Regions from separate parts of the Homo sapiens genome. Here region 1 is linked to region 2. The links come from fine-mapping of genetic effects on gene expression. A gene starts in region 2. The other region holds a variant in brackets. All regions are shown on one strand. Distances are from middle to middle.

The links. PIP is the estimated chance that this variant, and not a neighbour inherited with it, causes the effect. A credible set is the group of variants that fine-mapping cannot tell apart.
Region 1: its variant is the best candidate, but not a certain one, in a credible set for the expression of M1AP in whole blood (INTERVAL, PIP 0.80).

What each region holds. Positions count from the first base shown.
Region 1 is chr2:74,490,026-74,495,396 of GRCh38, reverse strand. TTC31 (tetratricopeptide repeat domain 31) reads right to left here. Exons shown (of 13, transcript NM_022492.6): 3 at 5,270-5,371; 4 at 4,924-5,153; 5 at 4,658-4,741; 6 at 4,213-4,269; 7 at 4,022-4,102; 8 at 3,725-3,916; 9 at 3,342-3,393; 10 at 3,168-3,258; 11 at 2,952-3,093; 12 at 2,650-2,751; 13 at 838-2,475. The coding sequence ends at 2,179. Among named protein-coding and RNA genes, the nearest start is that of LBX2, 6.9 kb to the left of the region's middle. The variant G/C (reference allele first, on the strand shown) is at 2,522.
Region 2 is chr2:74,645,921-74,651,291 of GRCh38, reverse strand. It overlaps M1AP (meiosis 1 associated protein), which reads left to right and starts at 2,962. Exons shown (of 11, transcript NM_001321739.2): 1 at 2,962-3,027.

The DNA.
Region 1 (5,371 bases), 160 kb after region 2:
CCCCTTGGACAAACACAACCACCTATGCCCATCCTGCTCCCCAACCAGGGGTGAGCAAAGAACTCTCAGGGCAAATCCTTCTAGTTAGGAAGGTAGGGTCCAGTCAAATTAACTGGCTGAGTCATAACCTCTCTCCCCATTGAGGTTTCCCAAATTCTAGCCCAGCTAGCACTGCCACCTCTTATACTGAAGACTTGGACAACAAAACTCAAACCTGTCCCACCAAAATGGCCTCTGGATGGAGGTCTGCTCCGCTAAGCCCCGCCCTTGAACAGTGTGTATCAGGATCACTTGGTAGGTTTATTGAAACACAAATTGCTGGGCCCTGCTCCCATGGTTTCTGATGTAGGTCACTGCAGGGGGCCTGAGAAATTGCATTTCTTTTTTTTTTTTTTTTGAGAGTTTTGCTCGTTACCCAGGCTGGAATGCAATGGCGCAATCTCGGCTCACCGCAACCTCCGCCTCCCAGGTTCAAGCGATTCTCCTGCCTCAGCCTCCCGAGTAGCTGGGATTACAGGCATGTGACACCACACCTGGCTAATTTTGTATTTTTAGCAGAGGAGGCGTTTCTCCATGTTGGTCAGGCTGGTCTCAAACTCCTGACCTCAGGTGATCCACCCATCTTGGCCTCCCAAAGTGCTGAGATTACAGGCGTGAGCCACCGTGCCCAGCCTGAGAAATTGCATTTCTAGTAAGTTCCTGGATGATGCTGATGCTGCTAGCCTAGAAAGCACACTTTGAGAATCCAGTCCCAGAACTCTGGATTTTGTGAATTTCAGCACCAATTCACCCACACTCCTCTCTTCCTATTGTGGGAAGCATGACTATGTAGGACAGTTGCAGACAAAAAGTGGTTTATTTAGCACCCACTATGTACCAGGCACTTGGGAGGTATTTTCTCACACTTTCGCTTTCCATCCTCACAATATCCCTTATGAGGTAGGGACTACCCTCATTTTTACAGGTGAGGGAACTGAGGCTTAGATGTTGACAGACCCATCCAAGGTGACCCAGCTGGTAATGGTAGACTTCATCCTGCTACACAGTATTTAAGGGGCCTAAACCATAAACAATTTTTAAAAATTTGGGAAAGTCACACATAAAGGAGATGTTTCAATACCTTCTCTCTCCAGGTATGAACAGTATTGAGCAAGACCCACAGGGCAGCAATAATCATTTATCCTGATGAAAGGTTCCTCTGTGAAAGGTAAGGGGGTTGGGGGAGACCTAAAGCCTTCTGCAGACCCACATTTAAATGAGCTGACAGTCCCAGCAGGACTACAGAGGAACCAGCTAGGGGAAGCTGCCAGGATCTTAGACGTGAAATTAAAAGGAGATCATGCTTCTTACCCAGGAAGTGGGGAATTCAGTTGACCCTTGAAAAAACTGAATAAATTAACATGGGGAAAGGCTAATTACCATGCCCAGTGCTGGGGTGGAGAAACAGAGTGGCCAAGGTTGTAGCAGCTTGGGCACCTGCTGAGGCCCCATTCAGCGGGAGAGCCACCAGTTGGGAGTGTGGACATGTATGGCCCTACCAGCTCTAAGCAGGAGCTGGTAAGGGACTTCCCAAATGCAAACCCTTGGTGAATATTCTAGCAGTGAGAGGAGGTGAGCACCAGACCACTGGACAAGAGAGGTCAGAGTCATACATAGCAATCTGGACAGGAAATGGCATGAGGAGCTGTGAGTAATCTGGGGGCTATGGCTAGAAAAACAGGGCACGAGCTGGGGCTGAGAAGAGGTGAGCATCCATCAAGCTGAAAGGTGGGACTCAAGCCCCCTCAGCACTGTGACCCCGTTCCTGTACACCAAGCTCTAGTTGGTGAATGAGGTCCCCTGGACCAAGAGGAAGAGAAAGGCCCAGATGCTTTCTCACTGTCTCTGCTATAGCCTAAAAACCTGAACTTTTCTATAGTTCCCTTCTTGAGCCTTGGTGGGTTTTATTTTTCCTTACTGCCTCCAGAAGAAGCTTGAGAACCAAAGGATGTTTCAGTGGATGTGGGGCTCCTTTCTCTCATCAGAAGCTTCCCCATGGCAAGAGGAATGACTGCCAGGGCATCATTAACTATGGATCTAGAGAATAAGGTCTCAAAATATGCAGTGAACTGTCACCACACTATGTCCCCCACCAAGGGATATATACATGGCCCTGCCCTATGAGGGACCGGTGCCCCCTCATCTGGCCTGAGACAGATGCTGGAGCCCAAGTCCCAGGATGTCCCAGCCCTTTGAAGGGTCCTGGGGCTTGAGAGGATGGGGCCTTCTACTCTGAGTCTGGGAGAGGGGCTGGTTGGGGTGGCTTCGGTGACATGAAGGATAATGCAAGAGTGGAGACAGGCCAGGGGACCTCAAAGCAGTGCTTCGAGGGCACCTGAGGGAAGGTAGGCCTGAGGGTGCCAGCTCAGCATGGGGAAGTGGCTGGAGGGCCCCAGGTGACAGAGGTGGTGCACAGATTCCTCCTCGCTGACCCTGCTGAGAAGGGAGAGAGAAGGGCACCAGATCCTTCTTTTAAGCAGGA[G/C]AGCCCATGCCTCTCATTCCACCCATCCTTCCCCGCCCCCTCCTTAGCCACCTGAGGCTTGGTATTGCAGTCCCAGCCAATTCTCCCTGATACCCGCCTCAGCATGACAGTGTGCCTGGCCCCCTTACCAGTGTGAGGTGGAGAAGGCAAGAGCGGAGCTCTCGGGCTGCGTCAGGCTGGGACCCACCTCTCAGAGTTTCCTGAAACACAGCAGCTGCCTCTCTGAAGCGCTTTGGTCCCAGAGGGATCAGAAAGAAAAGATTAGGTGTCAAGGTGCTTAAAAGTACCCTTTCTAAAACTGGCCCCTGCTCCTAGTACCACAACCATTGTGACACTTTGGTACTAGAAGCTTATCTAGAAAGTCAACATAGACCCTCTCCCCACTCCATCCCACTCAAATCTCTCCTGTTTCCAGCCCCAGACCTATTACCTGTAGTCCCATCAAGGCCTTGCCCAGGCGGAAGAGGCCCCGGGGCCAGCCAGGCCGTAGGGTAAGGGCCACCTGGGCATCAGCCAGGGCCCACGCTGGCTGACCCAACCGCTCATGGCAGAAGGAACGATTTCCAAATAACCTGATAAAGACAGAAGGTGGCCAAAGGTCTGAGTCCTCAACACTCTGCCCTGCCCTGGCCAAGCCCCCACCTACCGGTGGTCCTGGGGGTTGAGCTTCAAGGCCTGGGTGAAGAGGACCACGGCCTCATGGTAGAAACCATTTTGAGCAAAGCTGGTACCCAACTCTGGAAAGGAAAGAGGGTGAGAAGGTTCAGATGGGGCTACCCCAGGGAGGGTGGGGTGAGGACGGAGAGAGAAAGGATCTCACTTGCCAGTTCCTGGCTCTGTTGTAAGGCAGCTGCCAGCAGTCCCGGAGATGCCTGGGGATAGGGTGCAAAGTCAAGCAGGTCTTGAGGTCTCAGCCTCCCCAAATCCTTCTCCTTTGTTTAAACAGGTAACACTGCAATTAGCATTACCCAACTCATGTAATCCTCATGACAGCCCTACAAGATGGTATCAGCCCTATCTTCCTAGACAGGAAACCACCCGGGGTCATGGTGACAGTGATGGGGCCTGACTGTAGGTCTCTTGACCCTAGAGCCAGAGAACTCCCACTGGACCCTGTGTCAATCCTTAGACCCTGTGCCTCCCCAGCAGCTCCTTGTGCCCCTTCCACGGTTCCAGCTGAATAAGGTTCTTCAGCCACCTCACCTGTACCTTTGGACTCTGCTGGGGCCTCTCCTCTCTTGGAGGGCTCTCTTCCTCTTGACCCATCTTCTGGAGGGCCAGACCCCTGCCTTGGGGCTCCTGGTTCAGTCCCTTCTCTCTGCGGGCACTGAGGGGCCAATCCCCAACCTTGCGCAAAGCCAGAGACACAAAAGTGCTAGATAGATCCAGTGAGTCCTGTGAACAAAATGGAAAGTTAGGGAGGGGGTGGGGATGAAGTACATTCTGGAGGAGGAGGAGGAAAATGAGCAGAGACCAAGAAGGGAAAAAAGGGGCTCTCACCTCTTCTTCACCACACTGTCCCTGAACTGGGTTTCCAGGGCTGGATGGGGGGCTCTCATCTCCATCTGAGGTAGTGCTGGCCTGGAAGAAAGATAGACAGGTACAGAGTTGGGATCACCTTGAGCTGCCTGCTTTCTTGGCCCTCACCTTCCTGGCACTTGGTGCTCTTAGTACCTGCCCTAGATACTCACCTTGGGCTCCCCACAGTACTGCTCCAAACGCTCCTGTCGCTTCCGTTCCTTTTGACGCTGCAATAGTAATGGTAACAATGATGTATTTTGAACACTTACTGTATGTCGTGTGCTGGGCTAAGATTTCGCATTCCATCTTTGCAGCTCTATGAGACAGGCATCATTATTATCCTCATTTTGCAGGTGAAAAAGCAGACAAGAGAGGCACCAGCAAGAGGCCTCATGTAAGGAGGCAGATTCCTACCTAGGCAGCACAGTAGGATTCCAGAACCACTGCACCAGATGGCCTGTGAGAGACCCCCCAGTCCCTGGGCCCCTTGTGTCCTCCTGGCAAGAGAGTCCACTGCAGGCCATCTTGAGCTCTCTCCTGTTCCCACAAAGTTTCCTCTTTCCCTCTCCCAAATCCCTTTGGCTCCCCTGCACCCTCCAGCCATGCTCTAGCCACCTTCTTCTTGAGTCGCTTTTTCTCTGCTTTCTGTTTCATGCGCTCCTCCTCAGCCACCAGCTCCTCAGCCAGGCGATTGGCTTCCTGAAGGACGAAGGGCAGGTGACAGAAAAAGAGAGAAACAGGGAAATGGAGAGCAAACATGAAAGGGGGCAGGCAGTATAGAAGGATCTTGAAAGGTACCAATTAGGGGAGAATATAGGGATGGGGATACAGGGATTGAAAGAACCCTGGGGGACGGCAAAGCCCTCTCCTGAGAATCTCACCTCTTCTGTCACCAGGAGCTTCTGGGGCATGGCCACCTGAAGCAGGCTGTCTGAGACACTGGGGAAGGTGGCAGAGGCAGAGGGGCTTTGAGGGCAGGGCTCAGACTCTTGGGGAGGATACAGGAAGGACTTGCGGAGACCACAGTAGGTGCCCAGTCCCTCAGCCCCCTTGCCCCTGTCACTCTGTCCAGTTGATTTCCCTTCATCATCCAAGTGGCCCAGGAGGTAATCTGTCAGGAGGGAGAAAGAGACAGGAAAGAAAGGACATGAGAGCGGGGTGCATCTGAGGGTCAGCCCTCCCAGGGTACCAGCCTCGATCCCTGGGCCCGGTCCCTGCACTCCCCACCATGGTGCCACAGCTGCAGCCGCCCGCTGCTCCCATCCACATGGATCCGGTGCAGGCCCTGGGGATCACTCTCCACAAGCCGTCGAAGAAAATCCACTATGT
Region 2 (5,371 bases):
ACACACACATCCAAGTGCCTAGTGGACATTTCCACACAGTGTAACCACAGGCACCTTGATTTCAATATGTCCAAAACTGAACTATCGTCCCCACCCTCATAGCATCCTGGTAATTGTGTGGATGCTAAAACCAATGTTCCCCATAGCACTACTGTCTTTCCAGCTGTCTAAGCCAGAGACTTTGCATTTGTTTATTCAATAAGTATTCATTGAATGCCTACTATGTTCTAGGCCCTGTCATTTTGGATTCCTCTTAATCAAATCAATCATAAAGGCCTGTTAATTTTAACTCCTAAATACTTCCTCCCACATCTCCGCATCCCCTCTGCCAATACCCTAATTCAAACAACTATCTTCTCTTGCCTGGGCTCCTTCCTACTCTTGTCTTGTCCCTATGCCCTGCTGCCACCACCCCAATTTCAGCCCCCAATCCATTCCTTTTAAGGCAGGGAGGCAGGGAGAATGTTCTCTCCAGTACACAAATCAGATCATGTCACTCTTCTGCTTAAACACTTCAGTTTATCTCCCCATTCCAGCCCACCCCGCCTTTGCTATGAGATAAGATCCGAAATCTTTAATATAGTCCACAGATCGTATATGTTCTGGCCCTTTGCCTATCTCTCCTGCTTCATCTTTGACACTCCTCTTCCACATACTATACTCCATACTGGAGTATAGTTCAGCAAGACTGTTGGGGAATCATCAAGCCAATGTTGCCCATTAGAGGAGTGCTGTGTGAGGAGTGCTGTGTGAGAAGTGCAGTGTTTCCCAGGAATGGGTCTGCCTTAGTATCTCCACCACATTCAGTCAGTGGCTGGGAAGATGGCCTCCATGCAAATGTGGCAGATTTCTTTTTTCTTTCTTTTTTTTTTTTTGAGACAGAGTTTTTGCTCTTGTTGCCCAGGCTGGAATGCAGTGGTGCAATCTTGGCTCACCGCAACCTCTGCCTCCCGGGTTCAAGTGTTTCTCCTGCCTCAGCCTTCCGAGTAGCTGGGATTACAGGCATGCACCACCATGCCCGGCTAATTTTGGATTTTTAGTAGAGATGGGGTTTCTCCATGTTGGTCAGGCTGGTCTCGAACTCCTGACCTCAGGTGATCCACCCGCCTCGGCCTCCCAAAGTGCTGGGATTACAGGCGTGAACCACGGAGCCCAGTCGTGGCAGTAGATTTCTAAGGCAGCAGCTGATGCCCTTGGTCAGTTACACTCCTTGTAGTTTAAAGTCTGCAAGGTGCTTTCTCATGACCATTATAGTTTATCACCCTCAGAAAACAATTCTTATGTCATAGTCCCCATTTCTGGTACAGTTCTTTGCATATTTTTAATAAATGCTATAGAGGGTACGGAAAGAAATTAATAGTAGGTAGGAGCAATGGGTGGTATGGTTTGGAGTGAGGCTAGTGCTCAAGTTTGAATGCGTCCCCCAAAGTTCATTTGCTGGAAACTTAGTACCCAATGGAATAGTGTTCAGAGGTGGGGCCTAACAAGAGGTGATTAGGCCATAAGGGCTCTGCCCCCATAAATGAATTAATGTCATTATCTTGGAAATGAGTTAGTTATTGAGAGAGTGGGTTTGTTGTAAAAGTGAGTTCAGCTCCCTATTGCTGTCTTGCTCTTTTGTACCCCTTGCCCTTCTGCCTTCTGCCATGGGATGACACAGAAAAAATGCCCTCACTAGATGTGGGATTCTCAACCTTGGAATTCCTACCCTCCAGAATTTAAGAATACATTTCCTTTATTTACAAGTTAGTTGTTCTGTGGTATTCTGGTATAGCAACACAAAGGGGAGTAAGACAGGTAATGCTGGGGTTGAGCCTAGTAAGGTAGGTGGGGTCAGTTATAATGGACCCTCTAACCGAAAAGGAAACATAAGCCATTTTTAAGACAAAGAATGATATGATCAAAATATTTTTACAAGGACAATTCTAACATCAGTGGAAACGATAATCTGGAGATTAGAGACAGAAAGGCTAATTTGGACTATATGGGGGGAAAGAGCTGTTGAGAAGCTACCCTTTAAACTGAAACACAGGAACTCTATTGAATATCAGATTATAGTGTTTAAAAAAGGACATAGGTTAAATAGTTCTGTTCTTACCTGAGGAACAGTTGATAGGAGCAAAATGGTTTAGTGGGACTAGAATACAAGCAGGCAACTCTTTTCCTGTTGAAACATCTAACCTATCCTGTGCCACTCATTGAAATATTGCCCCACCCCACCTCCAACCTGCATCTAGACAATGAACTGAGAAAATAACAATAATAATAATAAAGAAAACAAGGAAAACTGCTTGTACATTTCTAGCTTGGAACTAGCATTATCTTTCCCTCTCCTGTGGACTAATTCAGAGAATTCCTTTTTAACCAGAGTTGAAGACCCAGACCAACCAACTGTTAAGGACCAGGACGCTCCTACCCCATCTGGAGTTCGTCAAAGGGACTATGGGAATCAACCTCAAGTAAGCGAGAATGAGTATGAAGAGAGCGACAGACCCTCTTGGAATACAGGAGTTTGAAAAGACTTAAAAGAACTTTGTGAAGGCAGCTATAACTTCCATGAGGGCAGTGACCATTGTCTGTACATCCACTGTACTCCAATCCTAGCACAATGCGTGGCACATAACGTGCCCACCACAGATGTTTAGTGAACAAAATAGCGACTGGCTGAAGGAAATGATGTGGAAGGGAAAAGTTAAAACCAAGAAAACGGTCGGTGGGGGAGCTACTGGCATGTTTCATGGGAAGGGGTAGAAAAAGAAAAATGTCAGGTTTAGCACAGCATTTCCAACAAATAGACAAAATTCTACCTAAGGGACAAAGAAGGACTGTTCTCAGGGTATCTAGGGACTTGGAGACCGTTTTCCTGAAGCGCCACCTGAAGCGCACCCTGAGGCAGCCAGGCCCCGCCTTGCCCGCAGTGAGCCTCCCGCCCAGCCGCGCCGGCCTGAGGGGGGCGCCTCCGAACGCGCGGGCGCACGCTGAGAGCCGGGAGGACCAGGTGAGGGGGCCTCCGTCTTCCGAAGACAGGTACGGTTCTCCACGCCTCGGGGAGGGAGGGCAGCCCGAGAGCAGCCGGCACCACTTCGCAGGCTGGGCTGGGCGTGGGCCGAGCTCGGGCCAGTCCTCAGGCAGGTGTTGGTTGCGCTGGCCGTGGCGGGTGCCGGCGCAAGACTGACGCCGAGAGAGGCTCCGAAATCGCTGTCGGAGTCATCCCTCCGCATACTGTTCTGGGCGGCCAGGCCTGCGCGGAGTCTGGGCCCGGAGCTTCCTCCGCGGGGCCCCCAGGCCCGAGGGCCGGGCTGCTGATCCGCCAGGCACGGTAGGCGCCATGCCGAGGGACCACGGAGGCTTCAGGGAGCCACGAGAATTTTTTTTCTTCTGGTTTTGCTTTGTTTTTGAGACGGAGTTTCACCCTTGTTGCCCAAGCTGGAGTGCAATGGCGTGATCTCGGCTCACTGCAACCTCCGCCTCCCGGGTTCAAGTGATTCTCCGCCTCAGCTTCTCGAGTAAGCTGGAATTACAGGCTCCCGCCACCACGCCTGGCTAATTTTTTTATATTTTTAGTAGAGACATGGTTTCCCTATGTTGGCCAGGCTGCTCTCGAACTCCTGACCTCGTGATCCGCCCGCCTCGGCCTCCTAAAGTGCTGCGATTACAGGCGTGAGCCACCGTGCCCGGCCACGAGAATGTTTTCATTTCGTTTAAAGTGAACCCATGAAGTCAAAGAAAGTGTTTTGATTTTTTTCTCACATCAGGAGGGGGAAATGAGATTTTTAGGGCCTACAAAATCCATTAACTTCTTTTAATCTTTTTTTAATGGAGGAAGGGGTCCACGAAGACGAAAGTGCCTTAGGGCCCACGAAATCTTTAATAGGGCCCTGCCAGAGGGAGAACCATTGAATCGTTTATCACGCGACAAAGTGAATGAGGGCTTGTAAAGGGGCCCTAACCTAGAATGCTCAGCACGGAACAGAACATCCGCAGAGGCAGACACAGCGAGAAGCCGATCTGTGAGAGGTGGATCTCCCGGGGTGCGGGCAGGGGAGGGCCTAGTGTGAGGATGGAGAGTTGGGCAGAAGGCACAAGCAGAACTTTAGGGCCAGGGTAAAGATATTGGATTCTGTTTCCAGTGGTGTAATTGGAAGTCCTTGGAGGGTTTTTAGTTTGGGCATAACTTGGTGGTTTGGAGTGGTTCAAGGCCCAGTTCCAGTTTTAACCAGTTTGCAGGGAGAATTCATTAAGCGAGTGTTCTTGGCAAAAGTGGAGAGTATAGGGTCAGAATAAGGTCAGAGCCTGTTTAGTACTATGCCCAGACACATCAGATGCATGAATTGATGATGTTTGAGGATGTAAGGAAGAGAGCTGCCTCTTACCTCATTTAAAATACAGTCTTCCAATTGCACATTAGTGTGGGATTGAAAAATGACTGCAAGCTGAAACCATTCAAAGAGATCTTAAACACCAATGGGAAAAATTACAGTTGTTCTATAACCTTGAAAAATTGTCAAAACACTAAAACTTTCTTACTAACTGTATAGGGAAATGTAAAACAGTAAAACTATTTCATACACTAACTTAAAACATTAGAAACATTGAGAGCTAAAGTGTTTTATTTGTTGAAAAAAAACTCTCATAGTAAAACTTATGAGAGAGCAAACATTTTTTGTGTGTCTTGGCAAACTGACATACTTCTTTCTAAGTTTGGGTTAGTTTCCTACATTTTATCCTTTGTACCTTCAATTTTGTAAAATATCTCTGAAAGTTTCTTTAATAATGAAGCTTTTTGCCAGTGGCCCTTTCTGTAGGATGTCTTCATCCTTTTCATCACAATGACTTTCCTCAAGTATGTTGATAAGTTTGCCTTCACTAAATTCCTCTGGCTGCTTCTCTAGAGTCTATCAGGTGGAGGCAGTGTCAACACTCTCATAGTCAGCTGTTTCTCCTTTAACTCCACTTATGTTAGATTCAGATTTCACTCCTGGCATTATCATTTTTTATTTCTTTGCTGCTCCTTTTATCGGCTAGTTTCCTCTTTCAGTTTTTGTTTTTATAAAACATCACATGGGCTTATCACTAGGAGACAAGGAGGCGACACAACTACACACTTCTGTCTGTGCTTTAACTGACTAATGGATCTGCAGTGACGGGTCACCAACAGACTTTGAAAGAAGTGATATAATTAATTACTGATCATGATGCACTGATCACTATATTATATCAGTACGCTATATCAGTATACTATACTATTGATACTGATAACTAGTAATTCGTGAACTAAAGAGCTAGATACTACTTTATGTAATTACAGTTAATATTCCATGGTAACTGAAATTTGAACTGTGTTGTTGGAAGACTAGTGTTAATTAACTAA